Homo sapiens: one gene and its partner. Changing the gene in region 1 together with any one later gene gives a genetic interaction. Each region holds a gene or a part of one and is shown in the gene's direction. Other genes may lie near its edges.

What was found.
Region 2: changes in LEO1 (region 1) and UMPS together harm fitness more than expected from each alone (negative genetic interaction), as found in Homo sapiens cells (one large-scale study listed by BioGRID).

Annotation. Positions count from the first base shown.
Region 1 is NC_000015.10:51,953,947-51,959,075, reverse strand, and holds part of LEO1 (RNA polymerase-associated protein LEO1), read left to right. Parts: intron 1-249; coding exon 250-334; intron 335-4,500; coding exon 4,501-4,595; intron 4,596-5,129. UniProt on the Homo sapiens protein: Component of the PAF1 complex (PAF1C) which has multiple functions during transcription by RNA polymerase II and is implicated in regulation of development and maintenance of embryonic stem cell pluripotency.
Region 2 is NC_000003.12:124,740,444-124,744,775, forward strand, and holds part of UMPS (uridine 5'-monophosphate synthase), read left to right. Parts: intron 1-1,708; coding exon 1,709-1,823; intron 1,824-3,471; coding exon 3,472-3,641; 3' UTR 3,642-4,332. UniProt on the Homo sapiens protein: Bifunctional enzyme catalyzing the last two steps of de novo pyrimidine biosynthesis, orotate phosphoribosyltransferase (OPRT), which converts orotate to orotidine-5'-monophosphate (OMP), and orotidine-5'-monophosphate decarboxylase (ODC), the terminal enzymatic reaction that decarboxylates OMP to uridine monophosphate (UMP).

The DNA of each region.
Region 1 (5,129 bases):
AGCCGAGATCGTGCCATTGCACTCCAGCCTGGGCAACAAGAGCAAAGCTCGGTCTCAAAAAAAAAAAAAAAGAAAAAAGTACAATTACTACTTCCTTGAAGTTAAGCATGAAGATATTGATCATTATGATTTTTAAAATTATATTATGATTTTTTGATATAATGGTGTTTATTAATAGAGATGTTATTACATAGCAGTAATATTCTTTATAAAATATGATTAATAGTTTATTTGGAAAACAATTTGTAGACCTTTTGATCCTCAGTATTATGAAGATGAATTTGAAGATGAAGAAATGCTGGATGAAGAAGGTAGAACCAGGTTAAAATTAAAGGTACCATTTCATGCTTTTTCCTTTTTTTTCTTTTATAAAGTAAAACCTGGAGATACTAACTTGAAACTTGAGCTTTTGAAAGTGATTTTTTTACCTAACACTTCACTATATGGCTGTGTTCTTTTGATTGCTTTTGTTGACTATTAGGAAAGAATTTTATTGTACTAAATTCCCATTAATGCTTCTCTTTGATACCTTATACCATCTGGTCACGCTATCAAAGGAGGGCCTCTAATCTTTTAAGTAAGGAGGATGTAGGTTCAGCAGAAGTTTCATCTTTTTATTTTGAGACACGGTCTTGCTCTGTTGTTCAGGATGGAGTACAGCGGCACAAACCCAGCTCTTGGCAGCCTCAATTTCCTGGGTTCAAGTGATCTTCCCATCTCAGCCTCCTGAGTAGCTGGGACTACAGAAAACATGCCACCATGCCCAGCCTTTTTTTTTTTTCTGTAGATATGAGGTCTTGCTGTGTTGCCCAGGTTGATCTTGAACTTCTGAGCTCAAGTGATCCTCCCGCCTTGACCTCCCAAATTGCTGGGATTACAGGCATGATTGCTACTGCACTTGGCCAAGTAGACATTTTAGAATTGAGTTGCACAAGGGAACAAGAGGTGGTTGAATGCATGATACTGAAACTGGAATTATGCATTTTCAATTCTTAAATCCGAAGGATTTCCTGTAAATTTCTTATTTTCTAGTGGGTATTTATATATTTTTTTTTGAGAAGGAGCATCGCTGTGTCGCCCACGCTGGAGGGCAGTGGCATGATCTCAGCTCACTGCAACCTCTGCCTCCTGGGTTCAAGTGATTCTCCTGCCTCAGCCTCCCAAGTAGCTGAGACTACAGGCATGCACCACCATGCCCAGCTAATTTTTGTATTTTTAGTAGAGACAGGGTTTCACGATGTTGGCCAGGTTGGTCTCGAACTCCTGACCTCAGGTGATCCACCCACCTCGGCCTCCCAAAGAGCTGGGATTACAGGTGTGAGCCACCGCGCCTGGCCTTGGTACCTTATTAAATTGTTAGAAAGGGATAGTCTGGCATTTTTTAGGCACTGAATTTTTATATTTTTAATAGTACCATCTCTTCAATGTGGTATATTAACAACTACCTAAATAACCTTGATATAAGATGGTTTCTATCCAAAAGCTTTTCAGTGAGACTTCACTACTCCTCTTAATGGAAATGCAAATCAAATAAGAAAACTGAGATAAACAGGTGCTAATAATTTGTTCAAGATCACACAGTCAACAGATATACTGCTTACACTATTTTTTTTTCCTGTCCTCCCTCCACCACCCATCTACTCATCTGTTTATTAGCCCATCTGTTAATATTATTTCTTTGGGACACATGGATGTATTGATTTAGGCTTAGCAGTATCAATTTTTCATGGTTGTTTTAGTGCCTCTGGCTTTAATTCTACTACTTTTCATTGTTTCCTGTCATATACATATAAACTAATATAGTAGTTCCTTATTCACTTTTTATCAATTTATTTAATTTTGTCTTTTTCCTTTTTCTTACTTTCTGTCATGATGCTACAGCTAGTATCAATATATCTATTATATTTTTAGACCATGTGATACCAGATTCTAGTATGGGTGTCAGACTTCAAAGGCCGGGCATGGTGCCGCATATCTGTAATTCCAGTACCTTGGGAGGCCGAGGTGAGAAGACTGGCCAGGAGTTTCAGACCAGCCTGAGCAACAGAGCAAGACCTTGTCTCTACTAAAAATAAAAAAAAATTAGCCAGCAGAGATGGCGCATGCCCATAGTCACAGCTACTCCAGGAGGCTGAGGCGGGAGGATTGCTTGAGCCCAGGAGTTTGAGGCTGCAGTGAGCTGTGATTGTGCCATTGCACTCCAGCCTGTGCAGCACAGCGAGACCCTGTCTCCCCCCCAAAAAAAAATTTATAAATATGTATTTTACCCTAAAATTTCAGTGCATCAGACTACAAAATGTTGGTGTTTAACATAAACTGTTGTCTTAAAACCTTGGTGTGTGATAGGAAATAACCCTGGACCCTTATTTTCTTGAGTGATGTTTAAGACTACGCTGACCAGTCTTAAAGCATGGTGTAGTTAATTCTTTAAGAACAAGGAACCAGGGAACCAGGTACAGCTTATGTACCTCTCTGAGGTCCCCTGTCTTCAGAAATACTATTATGTGTCCTTCATCCTGATAGGTTAAGACCTAGCAATGTGTCCTATTATAGCATCATTACTATTTGAATCACTTTATATAATAGAAAGCATTTTTTAGAACGGCTTCTCAATTAATAATGGCCTATTTGTGGTTTTTTTTTTTTTTTTTTTGAGATGGAGTCTTGCTCTGTCGTCGCCCAGGCTGGAATGCAGTGGCGCAATCTCAGCTCACTGCAACCCCCGCCTCCCGGGTTCAAGCAATTCTCCAGCCTCAGCCTCCCGAGTAGCTGGAATTACAGGCACATGCCACCATGCCCGGGTAATTTTTGTATATTTTTAGCAGAGATGGGGTTTCACTGTGTTGGCCAGGTAGGTCTTGAACTCCTGACCTCAGGTGATCTGCCTGCCTCGGCCTCCCAAAGTGCTGGGATTACAGGTGTGAGCCCTGCACCCGGCATATTTGTGTATTTATATGTGGCCAACCTATTGTATGAGATGGAAGACAGGAATAGTGACAGATTGTTTTGTTTTCAATCTGAAAATTTCAAACATACACCAATGTATTAAAAACAATATAATGAACTCTTTCATGTGCCCATGACCCACTTCAACAGTTGTCGAGTTAACAATCTTTTGTCATCTACATATTCCCCACCCCAGCTTCCCCAGACTATTCTGAAACAAATTTCAGGTATGACATCATGTTTAATTCATAAATATGATGGAGTTATTCAATCAGCACACTTTATAGCTATTTGTGAGGAATAAATAGGGAAAGGGGAAAAACTGGAAGGGGGAATCATTAGGACCCAGCTGCACAGACATTTGCAGCTAAAGGAGTGGAGATCCAGACGATCTCCGTGGGACTGGGAGCAGCTGTGTTTAGGATTGACACTGGGGGAACAGGCAGAGGGAAGCATGGTCTTGGCATTGGCAGTTTTCACATTGTTGGCTTCTGTCTGTTGCCAGCTTCATTCTCATTCTTTCTATCCTTGTATGTCCTGTTTTTACTCTTCATTGTCATTTTAGTGGGTTTCCAGGAGGCAGCAGTGATAAACTGCATGCGTTTAGTATGCCATGTTTTCCTGGAGATCCCACTGACTTTACTTTCAGTAACAGTGGTTTTCATTTGCCAACTCTGGTGTTTCCCCACCATGCAGGTAAGATAGTTAGGCTCTAAACCTATTGAAATCTGGGGTTTTCATTTTCATAGGGCACTTATTTATCCTTATTCATATATGGGAAGTTTATCTCTCTGTGCCAATAGGCAGAGTTTTTGGTCTCATTTTTATGGAGTTTTTAGCTCTGTGAGAGAACTTGCTTTATACAGGGGTTTCACTTCAAAATTTCTTCCTCGGCCGGGCGTGGTGGCTCACGCCTGTAATCCCAGCACTTTGGGAGGCCCAGGCGGGCGGATTATGAGGTCAGGAGATCGAGACCATCCTGGCTAACACGGTGAAACCCTGTCTCTACTAAAAAATATGAAAAAATTAGCCGGGCTTGGAGGTGGGCGCCTGTAATCCCAGCTACTGAGAAGGCGGAGGCAGGAGAATGGCGTGAACCCGGGAGGCGGAGCTTGCAGTGAGCCAAGACTGCGCCACTGCACTCCAGCCTGGACGACAGAGCAAGACTCCGTCTCAAAAAAAAAAAAAAAAAAAAATTTCTGCCTCACATGGACTCAAGTTTTATCGCCTGACCCTTGTAATTCTTACTGTCTTAACACATCTCGGGGTTAGTGTACATTTAGTATCTGCCATCTGCTCAAATGCTCTAAGCTTTCTCTATGATTATGATTCTAGGAGCTCAGAAATTCACTTAAGCATATTTTTTTCCCTGCTTTTAATTTATCCAACCTCTCTAGGTGATTAAAGAGGGTTTCAGTGTTGTTCATTCTCCTGCCACACATACATCTGTCACCTCTGTATGCTTATTCTGTGATTATGTGCCTCTTGAGGAAAAACAAGATGCATAGAGTCATTTAAACTATAATTTTCTAAAGTACTTGTGTTGTGAAACAGGTAGAAAATACTATAAGATGGAGGATACGCCGAGATGAAGAAGGAAATGAAATTAAAGAAAGCAATGCTCGGATAGTCAAGTGGTCAGATGGAAGGTGAGCACAAAACGCCTGAAGGGTATTGACATACCCAGAACGGGTCAGAGGGATCAAGTTTTGAAATACTTTTTAGTTTTAAATTTATTATTAGTTTTAGAAATGGGGTCTCACTCTGTTGCCCATGTTGGAGTGTAATGACATGATAACAGCTCAGTGGAGCCTCAGACTCCTAGTCCTAAGTGATCCTCCCATCTCCCAAGTAGCTGGGACTACTTGGTGTGCACCACCCTGCATGGATTATTAAAAAAAAAAAAGAGCCAGGCACGGTGGCTCACGCCTGTAATCCCAGCACTTTGGGAGGCCGAGGTGGGTGGATCACGAGGTCAGGAGTTCAAGACCAGCCTGGCCAAGATGGTGAAACCCCATCTTTACTAAAAATTAGCTGGGTGTGATGGCGGACGCCTGTAATCCCAGCTACTCAGGAGGCTGAGGCAGAGAATTCCTTGAACCCAGGAGGCGGAGGTTGCAGTAAGCCGAGATCGCGCCACTGCACTCCAGCCTGGGCAACAGAACTAGATGCCGTCTCAAAAA
Region 2 (4,332 bases), on another chromosome or scaffold:
TTAGTCAAACAAACACTTACTAAATCTACCAGGACTTTAAGATAATGTCTTTTTCATCTTACCATGAATTGAGAGAAGATGAGAAGAGCTTCCCAGACATGCAGTTTCTCAGAATCTCCCAAGTCCTACAGAGATGCACATTCCCATGACAGCAGCCCACATGCAGTGGCTTTCTCTTATTCTTGTCAGATATTTTAGAATATAATATTACTTTAAAAAAATTGCCATAGGGGGCTGGGCGCAGTTGCTCACACCTGTAATCCTAGCACTTTGGGAGGCCAAGGCGGGAGGATTGCTTGAGGCCAGGAGTTGGACGTCATAGTGAGATCTCGTCTCTACAAAAAAATGAAAAAGAAAATAACCAGGCATGGTGGTACGTGCCTATAGTCCCAGCTGCTTGGGAGGCTGAGGTGGGAGGATCGCTTGAGCTTGAAGTTCAAGGCTGCAGGGAGCCATGATCATGCCACTTTACCTCAGCCTGGGCAAGAGTAAGAGCCTGTCAAAAAAAATTAAAAATAAAAAGCCCCAAGAAAATCCCCATGATTTTTTTAAAAATGAAATCCCCAAGACAATCCCCATGTGAAGATTCTAGAAGTAAAGGATTTCCATTTTTTCATATTATTTCAGACTATTTGGAGACTTAACTCATATGGCCCTACAGTCAGGTTTTAACCCTATCCCTGAATTGACTATAACTGTCTGATTTCCCAAGTCTCAAAATCACAGGGGCCATGAGTCAGTTTTAATATTTGGCATTCTGGGAGTCTGGGTCTGGCTCAAGGACAAGACATGACTTGTTTGTTGGCAGTAGTACTTGGTGGCAAGAATGAATGTATCAATGTGTGTCTCAGGTCTCGAAGTACCGAGGCTGGAGTGCAGTGGTGGTACTGAGTCTGGTCTCCGGGAAGTATCAAATAAGAAGGGAAGTATGGGAGTCACGTCTCGGGGAAAGTACCTACCGAATCAGAAAGCCAGGCAGACCTTCTAAAGAGACTTTTATGAATGTGAGATAATAGTATAGAAATTGGGGAGACCAGTTGATGTTACAGAAGAGGGAAAGTGGTAGAGGTGAGATTTCTTTAGCTCTTGAAAGCGTAGCTGTTCTTTACATGACAGCTGCCTTTGGATATGGAGTACCCCGTCTGTAGATAGTCAGTAAGCCTTGAATGTGGTTTCATACCATTATAATATGTTCTAGAGTACTCGCCTCAAATCCTTTTTGGAAGTAGGTGGGTCACCAAGCATTATTAGAAATAAGAAATTATGCAGCATCTTGATTTTAGATGCATATAGTATAGGATTTCTGCTTTACGTATGGTTTATTGCGGGAAGGGAAGGGAAAGGGTCATCTCAGAGTCTTAATGAAGCAGATGTGTTTTATTATGGTTTCTATCTAAGATGACCTGTTTCAGATATAGTAACTTTATATATATGGAATGAGAAAAGGCATCTATAATACAGCAAAGTTTCTAACTAGATAATAGAGCATAAGCCAGGCATGGTGACTTACAACTGTAACCCCAGCACTTTGGGAGGCCAAGGTAGGAGGATCCCTTGAGCCCAGGGGTTCAAGACCAGCCAGGGAACATAGGGAGACCTCATGTCTTTTTTTTTTTTTTTTAAGTTTTGAAAAAATAGAGCATATTTTTACTTTTATTCTGTGTGATTAACTGTTTTCTTATAATATGTCCTATTACATTCCATTTAGGTTAGAATGGCTGAGGAGCACTCTGAATTTGTTGTTGGTTTTATTTCTGGCTCCCGAGTAAGCATGAAACCAGAATTTCTTCACTTGACTCCAGGAGTTCAGTTGGAAGCAGGAGGTAAATCTGGTCACTGGTCGTGGCTCTTCCAAAAATGCTTCTTTACCCATGGCAGGCAAAATAAAACTTTGCATATTATTATACACTTGCTTAAGAAAAGCCTTCTTAGTCTAGAACAATAATGAATGAGCCCTTTGGTAACTATGTATCTTTGGACAAGTCAGTTTACTTCTTTTAGTCTAATTGTCTGTAAAATGGGGATGATAACAGTATTGACCTCATAAGGTAATCAAGATGCTTTAATGAGATAACATGTAGAATATTTAACACAATGTCTTGGCACAGAGTAAACACTCTGTACTTATAAGCCCTTATTCGTAAGCCCTAATAATTGTTTGACTAGATATTATAGTTAGGGTCTAGGCTTTTAAGAATACTTAAAGTATCTTGGATTTGGAAGATAATAAGCCATTTAACAGAATGCTTCTGAAACAGCGGAATTTAATAAAAAAGCAAAATTTAAGGATTCGGGTTTATGGATAGTCTGTGTGACCACTTGATGGGGTTCTTGTATATGGTAGTGGTCAGGTTAGACTTGCTCAGCAGTGCCTTGTGGTGATTCTAAGATGTGTGCTAAAATTTTCTTCAATTGTGAGGCCAATCTTTATTGTATTTTTTTGATATTGAACCTTTCTTTGCAACATATGAGTTTTACTTCTTTTTTTAATATATTGTTAAGCTACAGATGATCTAAAATTTGACATTGAGGGGGTGAATATTTAGGGCAACTTGAATTTATGCTTCTGGAAAAAAATTACATGAAAAAATAATGATAAAATAAATAAGGCTGGGTGCGGGGGCTCACGCTCGTAATCCCAGCACTTTGTGAGGCCGAGGTGGGCAGATCACCTGAGGTCAGGAGTTCAAGACCAGCTTGGCCGACATGGTGAAACCCTGTCTCTACTCAAAATACAAAAATTAGCCGGGCGTGGTGGTGCACGCTTTTAATCCCAGCTACTCGGGAGGCTGAGGCAGGAGAATCGCTTGAATCCGGGAGGCGGGGGTTGCAGCGAGCTGAGATTGTGCCATTGCACTCCAGCCTGGGTGACAGAGCAAGACTCTGTCTCAAAAAAATAAATAAATAAATAGGGCGGGGCGCAGTAGCTCATGCCTGTAATCCCAGCACTTTGGGAGGCTGAGGCGGGCGGATCATGAGGTCAGGAGATCGAGACCATCCTGGCTAACACGGTGAAACTCCATCTCTACTAAAAAATACAAAAAATTAGCCAGGCGTGGTGGCAGGCGCCTGTAGTCCCAGCTACTCGGGAGGCTGAGGCAGGAGAATGGCATGAACCTGGGAGGCAGAGCTTGCAGTGAGCCGAGATAGCACCACTGCACTCCAGCCTGGGTGACAGAGCGAGACTCCGTCTCAAAAAAATAAATAAATAAAAATAAATAAATAAATAAATAAATAAAATAAACTTTACCATTGAAAAGGAGTTGGTGATCATCTTTCTCCATTTGACGTCTCTGGCCTACCCAGTGAGTCTCTTCAGCTCCTGTTTTTACGCAGTTGCTGTACAAAAGGGGAACGAAAGTAGGGGCATGTTTTTATTTAAAGCTGGTTAGATACTTTTTCAGAGAAGTCATGTGACAGGTTTTCTGATTTTTGTATTATGTGAAACAACAATTTTTGTGTTTCTTGCAGGAGATAATCTTGGCCAACAGTACAATAGCCCACAAGAAGTTATTGGCAAACGAGGTTCCGATATCATCATTGTAGGTCGTGGCATAATCTCAGCAGCTGATCGTCTGGAAGCAGCAGAGATGTACAGAAAAGCTGCTTGGGAAGCGTATTTGAGTAGACTTGGTGTTTGAGTGCTTCAGATACATTTTTCAGATACAATGTGAAGACATTGAAGATATGTGGTCCTCCTGAAAGTCACTGGCTGGAAATAATCCAATTATTCCTGCTTGGATTCTTCCACAGGGCCTGTGTAAGAATGGGTTCTGGAGTTCTCATGGTCTTTAGGAAATATTGAGTAATTTGTAATCACCGCATTGATACTATAATAAGTTCATTCTTAAGCTTGCTTTTTTTGAGACTGGTGTTTGTTAGACAGCCACAGTCCTGTCTGGGTTAGGGTCTTCCACATTTGAGGATCCTTCCTATCTCTCCATGGGACTAGACTGCTTTGTTATTCTATTTATTTTTTAATTTTTTTCGAGACAGGATCTCACTCTGTTGCCCAGGATGGAGTGCAGTGGTGAGATCACGGCTCATTGCAGCCTCGACCTCCCAGGTGATCCTCCCACCTCAGCTTCCAGATTAGCTGGTGCTATAGGCATGCACCACCACGTCCATCTAAATTTCTTTATTATTTGTAGAGATGAGGTCTTGCCATGTTACCCAGGCTGGTCTCAACTCCTGGGCTCAAGCGATCCTCCTGCCTCAGTCTCTCAAAGTGCTGGGATTACAGGTGTGAGCCACTGTGCCCAGCCTAATTGCAGTAAGACAAAAATTCTAGGGCACCAAGAGGCTAAAGTCAGCACAGCTTTTCTTGTGTCC